Linked DNA regions of Homo sapiens: region 2 is linked to region 1. Evidence: fine-mapped expression QTL. Tissue or cell type: whole blood. Region 1 holds a variant in brackets; the other region holds the start of a gene. All regions are shown on one strand. Distances are between the middles of the regions.

Region 1 (4,230 bases):
TCCTAAATATTGAACAGGAGTGGTCTGTTGAATTTTATCCTGAGTGATGTGTAATCCAGCCTCTGTAACACAGCGGCTTAAAATTTGATAACAGTCAATTAATTCTTTATTAGTTGGGGTAGCAATTAAAATATCATCAATATAATGAAGAATATAGGCCTGGGGAAATTGGGCTCGAACTAGTGAAAGCACTTGTCCGACATAAAGCTGGCAGATTGTAGGGCTATTCAGCATTCCCTGAGGAAGTACTTTCCATTGATAATGAGCTGCAGGCTCCTGATTATTGATAGATGGTACAGTAAAAGCAAATTTTTTACAATCCGATTTATGTAAAGCAATATGAAAAAACAATCTTTAAGACCAATAACTATGAGAGACCAATTTTTAGGTATTAAAGCAGGGGCAGGCATGCTGGGTTGGACAGCTCCCATAGGTTTAATTACAGCGTCAATGGCCCATAAATTGGTTACCATACGCCACTTGCCTGATTTCTTTTTTACTAGAAACATAGGAGAATTCCAGGGGGAAAGAGAAGGTTCCACATTTCCAAGTTGTAACTGTTCAGAAACCAATTGAATTAAAGCCTCCAGATTTTCTTTAGAAAGCAGCCACTGCTGAATCCAAACAGGTGTGTCAGATTTCCATTGTAAAGGGATAGGATCAGGAGGCATGGCAGTGGCCACCACTAAAAAGGATAATCTAAACCATTACTGTCTTATTTTATAGTAATTGGGAGGGGTTTAATAATCCCTTCATGCTTCGGACCGAGACCTAGCCCAGGAACAAACCCATGTTTTTCATCATATGCCGACCGGGAACACTATAAGAGTTATATGGAATATTAATTTTAGCCTCAGTATCTACTAGGCCCTCAAAACTTTTTTCCTTGAATGTGTATGGTGAAGGTGGGCCGTTGTTTAGAAATTGTATTAATCCAATAAGCAGCCTTTTTACCACCAGAGTCTATCCCAGAGCCACGTGTCTTATCTCCTTTGTTTAAAACGATATTAGGTAGTAAAAGCAATTGAGCCTGTTTAACAGTAGTAAAAGAAACAGGAGCTTGGCCTGGGGCACGTAATTTATCCCAAGCTCTCATACACACCTTTGTTACTTGTTTTGTGGTAGGAGCATCAAAGCCTACTTGGGCTTAAGTATCAGAGAAACTATTGGAGCCTGTGAGCTGAGCCTGAGTAGTTAGAATGCCATTAGTCTGATTTAGCTGAGCCTGAACATGGGCCTCCTCTGCCCACCAGGCTGAGATGGGGTTAGAACAGCTTTTTGCCAAAAGGTCCAAGTCTAAAGGAAGTAAAGTGACCTCCATACAAAAAGTTTGTAATACCATTTTAACATAAGGAGAAGTAGGACCATACTGACTGAGTACAAGCATCCTTAAATTCTTTTAAAAAAAGTAAGATTGAGCAGTGCATATCGACACAGACCGGTTGAGGAACCGAAACGACAGGAGGGTGAGGGGCTGTAGTGGATGGGGGAGGGCCTGGAGAATTATAGGTAAATTGTAGTTTGGTCCTGGAGCCATTTGAAGAGACAAGAATTAGCATATCTATGGTCCTGGGCTGTGTGAGTCATGGCCGCGGGAGCTTCAAGTACCAGTTCTTCATGAAAAGAAGATAAGTAGGGGGTAACTTTAAGCCAAAGTCACCAGAGTTAGACATTGAATTTTCAGCATCGTTAGGTGGGGGAGGAGTAGCCGAAGGAAGAGGCTGATCAGATAATGAAGGCCGTGTGGGAGAGGAAAGTTGAGGAGGTATTAGGATGGCACGTTCCAAGGCCTAATCACCCCAAACAGTGACGGGAACATAATTCCCTGCTGGGACCAGCTCCCAGAATGTTGAACCAACACGATCCCATACTTTTACATATACGGTTCCTTTTTCAGGAAACCAAGGACAGTATTTTTCCAACACCCTGAATAGAGTGACCATATTTTCCATGGTTACTCAGACCCTTCCCTGTTTTAACAGGTCTACATCTAAGGTTCCTTTTTCTTCTAATTTTAACGTTTCAGTATATATCACCTCCTGTAATTGATTATAGTCAACATTTTGTGTTGACCGAGCCATTACCGGCTCTGCTACATATTTACAATGTGAACTTTCCATTCCTTTTCGGGATTCTATCCCTGCCTCTTCTTCACAATCTATTACACAGCTTTCAGGGGCATCAGAAA[C/T]TGAAATGCTATCTTCTTCTGTTTGAAACAGTTCTAAAGCTACTTTAATAATGACCCAATCATTCCATATTGTAAGTGGGATGATTTTACCCTCCCTACTTGCTTGTTTTAATTCTTTGCCAATTTTTTCCCAATCTTTTAGATCTAAAGTTCCTTGTTCTAGAAACCATGGACAGAATTGTTCTATTGTTTGAAATAGCATGATTAGAGTTTTTGTAGAGACTCTAACTCCCCCTGTTTTTGAAATAATTTTAATAGAGCTAAAAGGCATATTTACTTTTAGTTTGCCCCATTGTTACCCTAGGTTCTTCCGAGCACACAAGCTTACCACAAGGCTGACTGTAGACTTACTCGGGAATCTCTCATTGACTTGTCCTCAATGACCACGCTCGAGCGTACCTTCACCCTAGAGAAAAGCCCCACGTTGGGCGCCAGATGAAGGGGTGGCCTGCCCCTCCACACCTGTGGGTGTTTCTTGTCAGGTGGGACAAGAGACTGAGAAAAGAAAGAGACACAGAGACAAAGTATAGAGAAAGAAAAGTGGGCCTAGGGGACCAGCACTCAGCATACGGAGGACCTGCTCCGGCACTGGTCTCTGAGTTCCCTCAGTATTTACTGATCATTATCTCTACCATCTCAGAGAGGGGGATGTGGCAGGACAATAGGGTAATAGTGGGGAGAGGGTCAGCAGGAAAACATGTGAACAAATGTCTCTGTGTCATAAACAAGGTTAGAAAAGGTGCTGTGCTTTGATGTGCACATACATAAACATATCTGGTGCATTAAAGAGCAGTATTGCCACCAGCATGTCTCACCTCCAGCCTTAAGGAGGTTTTTCTGTTATCTCAGTAGATGAAACATACAATCGGGTTTTACACCGAGACATTCCATTACCCAGGGATGAGCAGGAGACAGATGCCTTCCTCTTATCTCAACTGCAAAGAGGCCTTCCTCGTTTACTAATCCTCCTCAGCACAGACCTTTTATGGGTGTTGGGCTGGGGGACAGTCAGGTCTTTCCCTTCTTACGAGGCCATCTCTCAGACTATCACATGGGGAGAAACCTTGGACAATACCTGGCTTTCCTAGGCAGAGGTCCTTGCAGCCTTCTGCAGTGTATTGTGTCCTTGGGTACTTGAGATTAGAGAGTGGTGATGACTTTTAACAAGCATACTGCCTTCAAGCACTTGTTTAACAAAGCACATCCTGCATAGCCCTAAATCCATTAAACCTTGAGTCAACACAGCACATGTCTCTGCGAGCACAGGGTTGGGGGTAGGGTTACAGATTAACAGCATCTCAAGGCAGAAGAATTTTTCTTAGTACAGAACAAAATGGAGTCTCTTATGTCTACTTCTTTCTACATAGACACAGTAACAGTCTGATCTCTCTTTCTTTTCCTCACATGTTTCCTCCAGATATTCCCATGGCTCACTCTGCACAAAGCACACCCTCACTTCCTGCAAGTCTTTGTTCAAATGTCACCTTCTCAAGGAGGCCTACCCAATCACCCCTTTAAAATTTCAACCTGCCTTTCTGTGCACTGCTGTCACTCTTAATCCTCTTACCACTCTCTACTTTTTCTTCTTCGACAACACCTTTCACTTTCTAGGATACTTTAAAATTTATAGGTTAAATCTGTTTGTAATTTAAGCTCCCTAAGGACAGGAATCTTTGAACTTTTTGTTTACTGATATATCCCAAGCCCTTAAAGCAGTGCTTGGCACACAGCAGATGGTCCATAAATACCTATTGAATGAATAAATAAATGGGGTAACCCAGGGTCATAGCGAGTAAGTGGCATGGTGCTTTCATCAGACCCTATCATGGGTCAGCTACTGCTCTCAGAGCTCTTCTGTGACATCCTCTCGGGCTGCCTAGGTTCTCAATGGGCCCATCTATGACACTGCTTTATGTAGCCTCTAGCCATTGTGGGGTTGACCCAAAACAAAATTATGAGCTCTCAATTTTGCCATTGTTACCTCTGATGTTTCTTTTTTCTTTTTGAGACAGAATCTCCCTCTGTTGCCCAGGCTGGAGTGC
Region 2 (4,230 bases), 320 kb after region 1:
AAAGATCCCTGACCTCCCAGGAATCTCCTGTGTATCCCTCCTCCCCACCTCTCCCAATCTCCATTCTGAACATTCTCCCTGAAAGAGTTAAGCCTTCTGCAGGCTTCCCGTTCCTGGCCAGCGTTGCCAGTGGAGATTAGTGGGATCAGATTTATTTCTCTTAATAAACAGAAAAGAAGTTGGGCCAGGCAGGTGACAAGGAAACAGTTGCAATAATAGGAGGCTGGAGTAAAAGGGAACAGGACTTCCTCCAGTCATACCCAGGGCCACCTCCAGACCTGGAGAAACAACAGCCAGGGGCAAGGAGGTGTTACCCATGCACGTGGGCTCAAATCAGGCCGACATGCTGCCCAGAAAGCCCAGAGCCACCTGATACCAAACACAAGGCAAGAGGGAGGCCTGGCCACTGACCCAATGAACCCAAACCCAGGCTGTTGGAGCAGTGACCTACAGGCTCAGCTTTTCCAGCCCCCTGCCTTCCAGGCTGGTCTCCCAGAGGAAAAAGGTCCATTGCCCTGGAGTATACACTGCTAGTCCACTAGCCTTCTGCCTGCCAATCCTGACAGTCTGACCACAATACATCCTGCTGCAATGCCCTCTTGAATGAGACGGGGATGACTTCAGACTGAATCCCAGTGGGGCAGCCCTGGGACAGACTCCATGTCCTGTTAGGACTGCAGAGGCTTTGGAAACACCCCTCACCCAAATCCAGTCCTCCCTCAGGGTTTGGCCCAGTCACCCCAGCCCCAGCACCCTCACTTCTATGTGTGGCTGTGCCGCAGGGAAGCAGGGCCCTTATCCAAAAGGAAGATCAAGCCGGATACAATCACACATGAGGCTTTCCACCCTCTTCCTGACCCCTAAAGTGTTCCTTCTAACTCTCCCAGAAGAGGTGGTTAAAGGACACTGGGAGGGTAAACACAGGCAGAATGGGATGGGCCCGCACACCCAGCCATTTCCTCACCTCCAGCACTGCAGCAGCAGTCTAGGAAAGGTGGACTTCCCAGGACAGCAAGCCCCAAGGGAGCTCCACCCTCTTGCAAAGACTCAAGCCCTCCCCATCAAAAGGAAGACAGAAACTGGAAAATGAGGGAAGGCCCAAGAAAGGAACTGAAAATGACCCCAGCAGGGATGGGCCAGGTCGGCTTCCCCGCCTTTCAGGCTGCCCGTCCAGGCCAGAGGAGGAGCCCAGGGACTCAAATTCAGAAAGACTGAGAATTAGCTGTTGAATTTTAAGTACCCACCCCAGCCCAGGTACAGCCTCTCCACTGAGCTTGGGCCTCAGTTTCCCCCATCTGTAAGCACACTTCCGACACTGGCATGTTTCTCCAGGGCTGGAAGAAGGAGTGATAGGGAGGGGCGGGTTGGTTCACCTTGGTGAGCTCACTACCCCAGGAGGTGATGTTTGTGGCCTGGCCCAGGTGAGCGTTGAGGGAGGCCAGGTGGGAAAAGCCAGCACTGTTAAGAAGCTAAGGCAGGGCACACTGTGCTCCATGTGAGGTCCTTTGTGGGGCTGGAAATCCAGATCCAGCTGGAGCTGAAACTCTTTGTGAGTGCGGTTGACCTTCCAGACCCAGAGGGTCCCCACCAGAGACCCAAGGCCACCTGTCTCTCCCATTGGCCACAGGCCAGCGTTAAGTCTCTGACCCCCTGACTCAGCAGAGGGCAGAACCTCGGTGAGCCTGGGGGAGGGGGAATCGCCTCACCGCCCTGGAGTCGGGCTACCAGCACTTCCTGCTCTGCCAGGGGATCCCTGCCCCAGCCGGGGGTCCCCTCCCCTCACAGCGGGGCAGGACTGGGTCTGGAAACTGCGGAAGGCAGCGCAGGGTGGAAGTGTTCGGACTCAGCCCTGGCCTCTTCGCTTTCCAGCACCAGCTCCTGGGGGTCACCCCCCTCCAACACGCCGCGCGCGGACCCCCGGCAGAGCCCCCTCGGCCGCACCCTCGACGCCCCCCCGCGCTCAGCCCAGGTGCCGACCGCCTTACCTCGGCCTTTGCCCTTGGCCCTCTTGGCCTTGTCCTCCGCCTTCTTGGCCCGGGGGGCGGCCGGTTCGGCGCCCTCGGCCCCCGCCGCCTTCTTCTTGCGCCGCTTGCCCCGCAGCCAGCTGAAGGCGCGGCGGAGGCCGGACGCGCCGGAGCGGGACTTCTTCCTGCGCGGGGGGCCGCCCGGGTTCCCCGGCTCCTCGGCCGCAGGTGCGGCGGGGGGCGCGCGGGCCGCCATGGCAGGCGGGGGCGGAGCGGGCGGCGGGTCAGGCCCCCTGCGGCGCGGTGCCCATGCCGGGGGCGGCCGCCGGGGACGCGCGCCCGGAGAAAAGTTTGGGCGGCGGAGGCCGAGCGGGCGCGGAGAGCGGACGGCGGGAGCGGCGCGGGAGGGGCCGGCCGAGCGGCGGGCGGGGCGCAGGCCGGCGGGGAGGGAAGGAGCGGGGCGGGAGCGGCCGCAGGGCGGGAGCGCCGCTGCCTGCGGCCCCTCCCCGCCTCCCCCGGTCCCGGCGGAGGGCGAGGTCCAGTCCCGAGAGGAGGGGGTCCCGGGAGCCCGGGGTCGTGCCCCCCGCTGGGGCCCGAGAGGGCGGGTCGTGGGGCCGCCCGGGAGGGGGCGGCACTGAGGTTCCGTCCCGCAGGGGGCACCGCGGGAGATCTGTTCGGAAGAGGGTGGTATGGGGTGGGGACGGAAAGGGGAAGGGCGCAGGAAAGGAGGAGCGAGAGGCTGGGGTTGGACCCCAGGAGACTTGGTATCCCAAGTTTGGGCTGGGAATAGACAGGGGATTCTGGAATATTTTTTCCTGGAATAAGGGAATTTGGAGAATTCCTTCCAAGCCCCGACAGTGTTGGGGCGCTTGCGCCAGGAATAGAGGCTTCAGACACGTCCAAGACCTGTGACCCGCAGTGGGCATTTCCCTCCCATCTGCTGACTGGGGTCGCCTCCTCGCTCTTTACCACACCTTCCAGGCTCCAACCATCTTCGGTGTGCAGCGGGGGCCCAGGTCCACTGTGTTCCTGCCTCACCCTTTGGTGGCAAGATGAGGATAGCCCTTCCTCCGTTTACCCTTGGACTAGGATTTGAGGCCCCAGGGCACTCCTGCCTGGACCAGGAGTTCCCACTGAGATGCTCAACACTAATTAGGGTTGAACTCTGGGCAGGTGAGAGGTGTGACTGGGAGGCTGGTAGGAAAGGAAACATTAAGAATCCTGAAATTGCTGTACTCATTGCCTACAGGCCTCTGGGTCTATTACAGCTGACCAAGCCCTTTTATATCATCTGATCCCACGACAACGGAAATGGAGGCCAGAAGGGGACAGAGGTGGTCAGCGGGAGAGGAGCCAAGATGGTCATCTGGGTTTTGTCTCAGGCTGGTCCAAGGCTTCAAACCCTAAGGACTAGAAATTGCGCTGGGGACCAGCTGTGGGTTCAGCACCCTTGAACCTCCTCCGTCAGTCCCCAGAAGGGCCTTGTGATGTCCATACCAGTGGGGTGGCCAGAATCACCCAATCTGACTCTGGTCACACGGCTTTCTCTTGGTCCTGGTCTCCACGAGGGCAGGGGCCCATTTGTCTGGGCCACCCAGCCCAGTCAGCCCCGGCGCACTGTAGATAGCACTCACCATAACATTGCAGGATTACTAGAGTGCAGTGGGATCTCCCTAACCTGCCTTAGCCCCCTGCATGTCCCCAGGGGCTCAGCTGTGGTGAACCTGGGACATCATTGACACTCTCCCACCTGGGGGCCCTGGGGCAGACCACCCAGTGTCCATGCTGGGCCTCAGTTTCTTGTCTAACCACCATTCATTCAGATCCAGCCCACAATCCCAGAGCACCCATTCTGGATCAGGAACCAGCCCTGTACTCTGGGTGCTCTTGGCCCAGCCTAGCACTCCTAAGAACCCAGCCTCTTCCTCTGTTAGTTGGTGAGGAAAGGGAATGTAGAGAATGCAGTTTTCAAGAGAAAAGTGTTACAGGTGCCAGGCATGGTGGCTCAGGCCTGTATTCCCAGCACTTTGGGAGGCCCAGGCAAATGGATCACCTGAGGTCAGGAGTTTAAGACCAGCCAGACCAACATGGTGAAACCCGGTCTCTACTAAATACAAAAACTTAGCTGGGTGTGGTGGTGCATGCCTGTAGTCCCAGCTACTTGGGAGACTAAGGCAGGCGAATTGCTTGAACCCGGTAGGCGGAGGTTGCAGTGAGCCAAAATTGCACCATTGCACTCCAGCCTGGGTGACAGAGCGAGACTCTG

What was found. PIP is the estimated chance that this variant, and not a neighbour inherited with it, causes the effect.
Region 2: NHSL3 starts here. The variant in region 1 is the best candidate, but not a certain one, in a credible set for the expression of NHSL3 in whole blood (TOPMed, PIP 0.50).

What each region holds. Positions count from the first base shown.
Region 1 is chr1:33,062,879-33,067,108 of GRCh38, reverse strand. No RefSeq gene overlaps it. Among named protein-coding and RNA genes, the nearest start is that of AZIN2, 16 kb to the left of the region's middle. The variant C/T (reference allele first, on the strand shown) is at 2,189.
Region 2 is chr1:32,739,945-32,744,174 of GRCh38, reverse strand. It overlaps NHSL3 (NHS like 3), which reads right to left and starts at 2,345. Exons shown (of 7, transcript NM_020888.3): 1 at 1,986-2,345. The coding sequence starts at 2,220.